Linked DNA regions of Homo sapiens: all the other regions are reported to be linked to region 1. The links are microRNA targets in miRTarBase. Many come from high-throughput screens and were not tested one by one. Region 1 holds a microRNA gene; each other region holds the end of a gene's coding sequence.
The links. Region 1 holds the annotated microRNA hsa-miR-548aw (GUGCAAAAGUCAUCACGGUU, at 1,670-1,689, shown strand). A microRNA usually pairs through its seed, bases 2 to 8, with sites in the 3' UTR of a target mRNA and lowers its output. Matches are read on the target gene's strand: a 7mer-m8 pairs with bases 2 to 8, a 7mer-A1 pairs with bases 2 to 7 and ends in A, and an 8mer does both.

Region 2: miRTarBase lists ARHGAP12 as a target of hsa-miR-548aw. Seed matches in the 3' UTR shown: 7mer-m8 at 2,518-2,524.
Region 3: miRTarBase lists WDR81 as a target of hsa-miR-548aw. Seed matches in the 3' UTR shown: 7mer-A1 at 1,200-1,206.

The regions. Positions count from the first base shown.
Region 1 is chr9:132,944,045-132,947,044 of GRCh38, forward strand. It overlaps MIR548AW (microRNA 548aw), which reads left to right and starts at 1,663; the gene lies at 1,663-1,727. It overlaps TSC1 (TSC complex subunit 1), which reads right to left and starts at 572. Exons shown (of 23, transcript NM_000368.5): 1 at 499-572. It also overlaps a transcript of GFI1B not described here. RefSeq lists silencers at 180-239, 300-359, 890-969 and enhancers at 444-1,177, 490-789, 1,150-1,289.
Region 2 is chr10:31,805,031-31,808,030 of GRCh38, forward strand. It overlaps ARHGAP12 (Rho GTPase activating protein 12), which reads right to left. Exons shown (of 20, transcript NM_018287.7): 20 at 368-2,802. The coding sequence ends at 2,628. Among named protein-coding and RNA genes, the nearest start is that of MACORIS, 99 kb to the left of the region's middle.
Region 3 is chr17:1,737,341-1,740,340 of GRCh38, forward strand. It overlaps WDR81 (WD repeat domain 81), which reads left to right. Exons shown (of 10, transcript NM_001163809.2): 10 at 25-1,245. The coding sequence ends at 345. Among named protein-coding and RNA genes, the nearest start is that of SERPINF2, 4.0 kb to the right of the region's middle.

The sequences.
Region 1 (3,000 bases):
AGGCGAGTCCTTGATCCCCACAGGCGACCTCCATTCATTCTCCACGCCCCTATACCCCGACCCCTCTCTTTAAGTTCTGGGACCAGCCCCACCCTCGCGACCCTTCCCCTCCCGCCAAGCGTCTCTACCCTGCCCTCCGCACCTAGCGTGAACCTGTCACCCCACCAAGTGAGGGACTGACGAAGGGGCCCACCTCGCCCCTGCCCGAGGGACCGAGGCCCAGGGTGCAGCCGTCCCCTCGGGGGCCAAGGAGGGGCGAAGTGCTCCGTCCGGCTCGCCTCTCCTCCCCAGGGACCCGCCAGTCCCGGCCGGGCCAGCCGGAGATAGCGTGTAATAAGAGGGAGGGGAGAGCTCTCCGAACCCCCCTTCCCCGGGATCCCTACCAAGCAAGTGAGTCTCTTGCTCCAGCCCCTCCGAGCCTCCCCGGCTGGAGTCATGGTGCCGGGGCTGCCCCAGGAAGCCCCCATAAAAAGGAGGGGGAGACACCCCCATACTCACCCACCGTCTCCTCCCCCTCAGCTGTTTACCTCACAGTCCCTCCAGCCTACAGGGCGCCGCCATCTTGGACGTACAGCACCTCCCCCGTCGTGAAAGGGCCAAGGCCGACGGCGGCCTCCGCCACGAAAAAGAGTCCCCCTCCGGACCTCCCCTCCTTCTCGAAAGGAAGGATAGACGGCCGCGCTCGGCAGCCCCGCCGGAAGGAAGAGGCTCTTCCACTCATAACTGACGATGTGGGTTGGACGAGAAAAAAAGTAAGGAGGGTTTTTATGGAGGGGGGCGGGGCCGGGCGGAAGGATCCGAAAGGAGGCTGCGAAGAGATCTTGTGACTCCGCGAAGGAGGCAAAAAGAAGGGCCGGCGCGGCGGGAGGAGCCACGCGAGAGCCCGAGGGGGCGGGGCGGGCGGTCACGTGACTGGCGGGCGGGGGGACGCGGCGGAGAGGCGTAAACAAGCTGGCGGCGCCTGGGTGTGGTTGGAGCGCCCTGCCCCTGCCCCCCGAGTCGTTTCTGCCCTTCGCTTGCGTGGCGCCCTCCGAGGGTCTCTCTGTGGGCGGCCTCAGAGCAGCGATCCTGTTTCCCAAGGAGCTGCTGGGGCCCGCGTGGGTGAAGGGCCTGCTTGGGAGCTTTGGAGTTGCAGCTCACCTGGGAAGGGGCGGAAAGCTGCGGGCCAGGGCAGCCCTCCTTCCTGGGCTAAACATTTTCAGAAGCCCGCCTCCGGGATTGCGGGGGACCCCCCTGGCTTCTGCCTTCAAGTAGCTCACACTTCACACCTACTCATGACATCTAGGGGAAACCAGCCCTAATAGGAGACAGCTTGAAAATCAGAACGCCTTATTCCGTTTCCTGCTGAAACAAGGCTTTAAGTCCTCCAAGCCTCAGTTTCTTCCTCTGTGAAATGGGCATAATGACATCTGTGACGTGAAGAATCAAGGAGATGAAGTATGGACAGCGTTTAGCCCAGAGTCCTGCGCCTAGTAAATGCTCACTCACTAGATAGGTGGCCTTTATTGCGAGGCTGAGTATGATGGGCTCCATCCAGCACGAACACAAAGCCCTGTGAGAGGAGGCAGAGTGAGATGAAGTCGAACTGTGGGATATGAAAGGCATTTTGAAGGAGTAGGCATCAGGTTGGGTTTTAAAGGAAATGTAGGTTTTGTGAAATACTAGGTCGGTGCAAAAGTCATCACGGTTTTTACCATTAAAACCGCGATGACTTTTGCATCAACCTAATAGAACCAGGCGAGGCGGCTCGGGAGAGAAGGCCATTCCAGGCAGAGGGAACCAAAGGAGCAAGAGCCTAGGGGCAAAAAAGTGTTGGGTGAGTTATGGGAATAACAGGTTTTGTCATGGGAACCAATTGGGTCACAGTGCAAGGCAGCCATGGTTAAGGGGGGCCAGGTGTGTGAGTAGCCAGCACCGTGGGTGCCTTCAGAATTCTGAAAAGGCCCTGGATGGTATCGGGTAGAGCCGCTGCTAGTCAGTATAGGGCCTTGGTGAGAATTAGAAAAATGGCACCCCTGGGCTGTATTTTGGCCCCTATCCACCAGCCCCAAACCCTCCTGGGCCCTTGAGCAGTGAACAACCTTTATAACCATACGTCTAGAGCCACGAAGGCTTAGGAGGGAGGTGAAAATTGAACTGATGATTCCTCTGTTCTAACACAGTCGCTGGGGGGAAGCTAAGAGTTCTAGATTCAAACAGACCAGAGTTTGAATGTAGGTTTCAGCCATCATGTTCTAACTGGATGAGCCTTAGTCTCCTCACCTGCAACATAGGGCTAATAATAATGCTAGTTCATGGGGATTTGGGGTGAAGTCAGTGAGTCATTAAGCTCTAAGTGGCACAGAGCCTACTCCAGTTAATGTTATTTTTGATAACTGTTAAGTGCCAGCTGTCAGCATCCATCACTTCCAGAAACGGGTCCACCAAACACTAAATTCTTCTGTGTCACCACCCAAGCATAGTCTGCATGGGGTCCAGAGATGGAAAGGTCGAGGGAAACGGGGAAGGGTCTGGGTTCTCTCAGTTCCACCAATCTGCAAACTACTTTACAGGAACAGACTCTTCCCTTTGCATTCACACCAGGGAAGGGATTCAAGATTTCTGAAATCTTCAGAGATTTCTGAGACCACCAGTGATGGGAGACCTAAGGAGGAGGGCAGGGGGAGCAGCACTGCTCTGGAGCTCTGACCCAGGAAGCCCCCCCACACCCTGACCTTCCTTGGCTCCATGACCTCATCCTGCAGGAATGCATTCTGCCATGGAGGAGAGCAGCCATAAGCAGAGCTCATCAACTGCTCACTTTCCAGGGGGCCATAACCACATTGTCACTGTTTCTACACTGTCTGGAAGAAGAATGGGCATTGTTACCTCAATATGGGACCACCAGGGGCTTGCAAGAAGAGGCTGAAGGTGACAGGCAGAGACAGCTCTACTACCATCTCCTGCCACTTACCAGGCTGGGCCACCTAGATGTTTTCTGCTTCTCTGGGGTTGATTTTT
Region 2 (3,000 bases), not on the chromosome of region 1:
TAGTAAAAAGGTCTCCATGTATCTGCATTATTGGTGAGTTTTCACTTGTATGTAAGCAACGGCGTGCACAAACACTTAGCACACACACACGTTTGTGTGTATGTTATAAACGCACAACCCATCTACCACTAAGTCCAAAGTTTCACCAAATTATTTCATTTGTGCTTTTCACATAAAAACAATTTATAGATTTGTCTCTATCTAAAATATAAACATCATTTTTTGGAGATTATTTAATAATTAACGTACTTTCTCCAGAGTAAAGGGTAAAATTTCTTATTTCTATAAAATTTAAATAAGTGTTTTTCTTCTAATTGGAATGTGACAATGTATTTAAATATACTTTCTTTTCTAAATCTGCAACTACCTTTTTCAATGACATTATGAAGGAAGACTTACTAACAAATAAAATTCCACTGATAATTTATTTCAGCTTTTAATATATTTTCTACTATAAAACCAAGCTGTCAAGACAGGAAAATATTACTAGCTTTGTTATTACAAAACAAGTGAGAATTTTTAATTCACAAAGGATGAAAACGCAAGACATTAATCTCACTGTACATACAATATTACAATAAACTGATTAGCTGTAGACTAATAAAACATTTAAGACTTCACACACACACACACACACACACACACACACACACACGTACCTTGAAACAAGAAACACAGGACAATTTTAATCTTTGATATATGTTCATGAACACCAAGAACAAGAACATCACTGATTTGAGTCTAATTGTTTTCCTGGTATACAATCACTAAATAAGCAAGATCTAAAGCATATTGTATTATTAAGGACATCTTTAGGCAAATATAAACATTCTGATTTAGGGCTTTTTCTCCCCACCCGAAACAATCTGCTTTAGCTATCAAGTAGTTTGGTTTGTTATCAATTTAACACGCTCACAACAACAAATACAGACTTTCTACCACAAAATTCAGGTGAGAGGTTTTTAGACAGATCATACAAAAAAATACTTGTTCCCAAGGAAGGCAATCTGTAAATTATAAATGCAACCCTAAGAAAAAAAAATCCTGGTCACAAATCACTCGCTTTCAAATATTGATGGAGAAATAAAAAGTGTACGTTGTGGGTGGAGAAATGTTGGCATGGAAGAGAGGAGAAAAGGTATGAAATGAGGAAAGTGTTATTTGCCACAGGAAATATTGGATTCAGTTGATTTTTAAAAATGAGGTATAACAGTATGCCAGTAAATGAAAAAACAAAAAAATTAGAAACCAAAATGCACATTTCCAATGGAAAAATCTCTAAACCTCTTATAGTTTTATTAGACATTTCATGTACAGAAGTTAATCTAGAAAAATACATTTTAAAAATCTTCAACAGACCATGCTCCCTGTAACAAAACCTTCCAAACCCTGTGTTTTATTATACAAAGCAATCTACATTAGTAGGTAAAAAGAAATTCTCAAATTTAGCAATGTCATTTTCCATCCAACATCCATCTAATTTACAGATGGGTTTCCACTATTCATACTGGAATTAGAATTCTGTAATAAATTTTTTCTAATGTTTTCTGTACATATTAAATAACCCAAAAGGTTCCTCTTGTAGTGCATGTGCCATTTAGCAAGTCTATTCAGTATTTTTCCAGTACCATTCTCATTACAGTGATTTGCCTGTAAATGTAGTTAATATCTAAAAGTGCACACAGTTAACTTTCCCAAATAACGGACTATTTCTGGAGGAAACCTAATATTCACAGAAAAGATTACCAATAACAATGATTAGAAATGTAGGGTTAGAATGTACTCTGAGACTATACAACACAATTATATACACAAGCTAAAGGACATTAAGTCTTTAGCCTATATTTACATAAAATAATGTGTGTTTCCACAGGGTCATACCAATAACTCAGTATGGTACTAGATATAATTAGGATTGTTAGCTACAATTCAGTATAGCAAGACAGCCCTAAAATGCCCTGAACTGACTTCCGCTAACTAAAACTCCAGTATATCACAGTGTTTTAAGTAATATTAGTGTGCTGCCCAAACAAGCAACTAAGATATCCAGTAAGGATGCTGTGTAACACAGTAAAAGACAGCAAGCCTTCATCAAGGGGTTATTTTGGGGTTATAATGAATTTTGGCACTTAAGACTGCCACTGCATGCAGAAACCCCGAAAAAGAAATACACAGGTTTCAAAATGGATATACTTCATTTTGTTTAAAATGCCCAAGAGCCTTTGCAACATAACTGAAAGTATTGTTCTATCAAGTCATGAATCTTGAGAAGAAAGTACATTATCCAATTTCAGGGAAAAAAAATACAGTTTTCTTACCAAATTATCCAGTGTATATGACTGGTTAGAATTTTAAGTTTTGATTTTTACTGAAATTCAGAGTATGAAATGCAAACATTCAGGATAAAATGAATTCATAATTACACGCAGTTATATCAACTTGCAACAAAGCAGCAAATATGAGGGCCTAACACACATCTCGACTCTCCCCTTCCCTTCTGATCCCTCAAAAAAAAAGTGCAAAATCAAAGAGTCACTGCTTGGTCCAAAAAATAAAATACATTGTGTATAAACATTTGAAATCTGATGGAATCCAGCTTCTATTCCACAGGTTGTCTTCAGTAAGAATCAACGTCCGAAGATGGAACTCAGTTCCAGAAGAATTAATTCTACAATCTGATTCTGGTACACAGTATGAACTGCTATATTACCAGTCTCTTTTTCTGGTTTTAATAGAGTGGGACCAAAAACAATTGCTATACTCTGATAGGTCATTCGATTTTTCTCTCCATTTTCTATAACTCTGAAGGGAAAAAAAGAAGTTGTTAAAAGAGAAAATAAGAGAGAGGGAAAATTCTTCAAATGGTATTATAAACCTAACAGTTTGCATTTTAAAAAGAGAAGTAATACTTATTTTCCTAAGGTGATGCATAAACTATTTAACCAAGTAGAATTCTGTCTAAATGCCATGTGAAGCTTTCTTTTTGATAAACACAGCTGA
Region 3 (3,000 bases), not on the chromosome of region 1:
TGAGGCTCTCCTCTCCCGGGACAGGCGGTGGAGGGCAGCGTCCTGGTCAGCTCCTCCTCTGACCATTCCTTGACCGTCTGGAAGGAGCTGGAGCAGAAGCCCACCCATCACTACAAGTCAGCATCCGACCCCATCCACACCTTTGACCTGTACGGCAGCGAGGTGGTCACTGGCACCGTGTCCAACAAGATTGGCGTCTGCTCCCTGCTTGAGCCACCCTCGCAGGCCACCACGAAGCTCAGCTCTGAGAACTTCCGCGGCACGCTCACCAGCCTGGCCTTGCTGCCCACTAAACGCCACCTCCTGCTGGGCTCAGACAACGGGGTTATCCGCCTCCTGGCATAGACTGAGGCAGGAGCTGGCCGGGCAAGGGTGGGAAGACATCTGCGGGCGCGTGTCCACTCACCCTGTTCCCTGAGCAGCAGCTCCCTCCAGGGAGGCCCTGGGTCCCACGCCCTGGGTGCCCACATGGCCTGCCAACTAGGGCCTGCAAATGGAGTGGGGGAGTCCTGGCCCCTGAATCACCAGAGCCACCAAGCCTGCCAGAGGGGTCTCATTCATGGCTTGGGGACACAGGGCTCCTAGCAAGCAGGAAGTTAAGAGCAGGAGGAAGCGTTGCTACCTTCACTTCTCCCCAGCTCTGCCCTCTGGGTCCACATGAGGACAGGGAAGCTCGGGAAGGGGAAGGGAGACTGGCCCTGCCCAGCCGGTCTCTAGCCCCTCAGCCCCCGCTGGGCACTCTCTGTCCCATCCCTCTAGGACAGGGAAGCTGGCCTGGTCCAGGGCACTGATGGTGCTTGGATTCCAGCCTAAGGAAGGCTGGCCGTGGTCCAGGAGTTAAGGGCTTGGGTCTGGGGTTTAAGTGGCCACCCATCCAGGCCCTGGCCAGTGTGGGACCGGGACGGGAAGGAAGAAGGAGGCTAGGAGCAGGGGGAAAAGGTGCACTTGGCCAGTGGCGCCTGCCAGGAGTGAGTCCATGCGTTGTCTGCCCACCCCTACCACAGTGTTTGTGCCTTCAGCTGAGGGGGCAGCCTCTGGGCCCTGAACCCCTGCTGGGGCTCCACGACCCTGAGAGAAGGGGTGAGAAGAATCATCTCTGCACCTCGGGTCTCTGCCAGAGGAAGACTTAAGCATCCCTGCGACCTCACATTCTAGACAGAGATGAGGTCCAGGGGTTGGCCCCTGCTGCCTTCTCACAATTTGCAATAGATGTAAATAGGACCAATAAATCCTTTGGAAGAGCCATGGGGTGAACTGAGGCTTGTCTTTTTTTTTTTTTTCAATAGAGATGGAGTCTGACTATGTTGCCCAAGCTGGTCTCCAACTCCTGGGCTCAAGCGATCCTCCTGCCTCGGCCTCCCAAAGTGTTGGGATTACAGGCATGAGCCACCACGCCCAGCCTGAGGCTTATCTTGCTGGTGGTGTCAGGGTGGGGAAAGTCGAGACCCAGCAGTTTCCAGGACAGTGAGGGTGGGAAGGGGCCTGATGGAGGGAGTGAGGAGCAGGACAGTGAGGGTAGGAGGCGGCCTGATGCAGGGAGTGAGGCGCAGGACAGTGAGGGTGGGAAGGAGCCTGATGCAGGGAGTGAGGCGCAGGACAGTGAGGGTGGGAAGGAGCCTGATGCAGGGAGTGAGGCGCAGGACAGTGAGGGTGGGAAGGAGCCTGATGCAGGGAGTGAGGCGCAGGACAGTGAGGGTGGGAAGGAGCCTGATGCAGGGAGTGAGGCGCAGGACAGTGAGGGTGGGAAGGAGCCTGATGCAGGGAGTGAGGCGCAGGACAGTGAGGGTGGGAAGGAGCCTGATGCAGGGAGTGAGGCGCAGGACAGTGAGGGTGGGAAGGAGCCTGATGCAGGGAGTGAGGAGCCGGACAGTGAGGGTGGGAGGCGGCCTGATGCAGGGAGTGAGGCGCAGGACAGTGAGGGTGGGAAGGAGCCTGATGCAGGGAGTGAGGCGCAGGACAGTGAGGGTGGGAAGGAGCCTGATGCAGGGAGTGAGGAGCAGGACAGTGAGGGTGGGAAGGAGCCTGATGCAGGGAGTGAGGAGCCGGACAGTGAGGGTGGGAAGGAGCCTGATGCAGGGAGTGAGGAGCAGGACAGTGAGGGTGGGAAGTGGCCTGATGCAGGGAGTGAGGAGCAGGTGTGAGGGCGGGAAGCGGCCTGATGCAGGGAGTGAGGCGCAGGACAGTGAGGGTGGGAAGGAGCCTGATGCAGGGAGTGAGGCGCAGGACAGTGAGGGTGGGAAGGAGCCTGATGCAGGGAGTGAGGCGCAGGACAGTGAGGGTGGGAAGGAGCCTGATGCAGGGAGTGAGGAGCAGGACAGTGAGGGTGGGAAGTGGCCTGATGCAGGGAGTGAGGCGCAGGACAGTGAGGGTGGGAGGCGGCCTGATGCAGGGAGTGAGGCGCAGGACAGTGAGGGTGGGAAGGAGCCTGATGCAGGGAGTGAGGCGCAGGACAGTGAGGGTGGGAAGGGGCCTGATGCAGGGAGTGAGGCGCAGGACAGTGAGGGTGGGAAGGAGCCTGATGCAGGGAGTGAGGAGCCGGACAGTGAGGGTGGGAAGGAGCCTGATGCAGGGAGTGAGGAGCAGGACAGTGAGGGTGGGAGGTGGCCTGATGCAGGGAGTGAGGAGCCGGACAGTGAGGGTGGGAAGGAGCCTGATGCAGGGAGTGAGGCGCAGGACAGTGAGGGTGGGAGGCGGCCTGATGCAGGGAGTGAGGCGCAGGACAGTGAGGGTGGGAAGGAGCCTGATGCAGGGAGTGAGGAGCAGGACAGTGAGGGTGGGAGGCGGCCTGATGCAGGGAGTGAGGCGCAGGACAGTGAGGGTGGGAAGGAGCCTGATGCAGGGAGTGAGGCGCAGGACAGTGAGGGTGGGAAGGAGCCTGATGCAGGGAGTGAGGCACAGGACAGTGAGGGTGGGAAGTGGCCTGATGCAGGGAGTGAGGCGCAGGACAGTGAGGGTGGGAAGGAGCCTGATGCAGGGAGTGAGGAGCCGGACAGTGAGGGT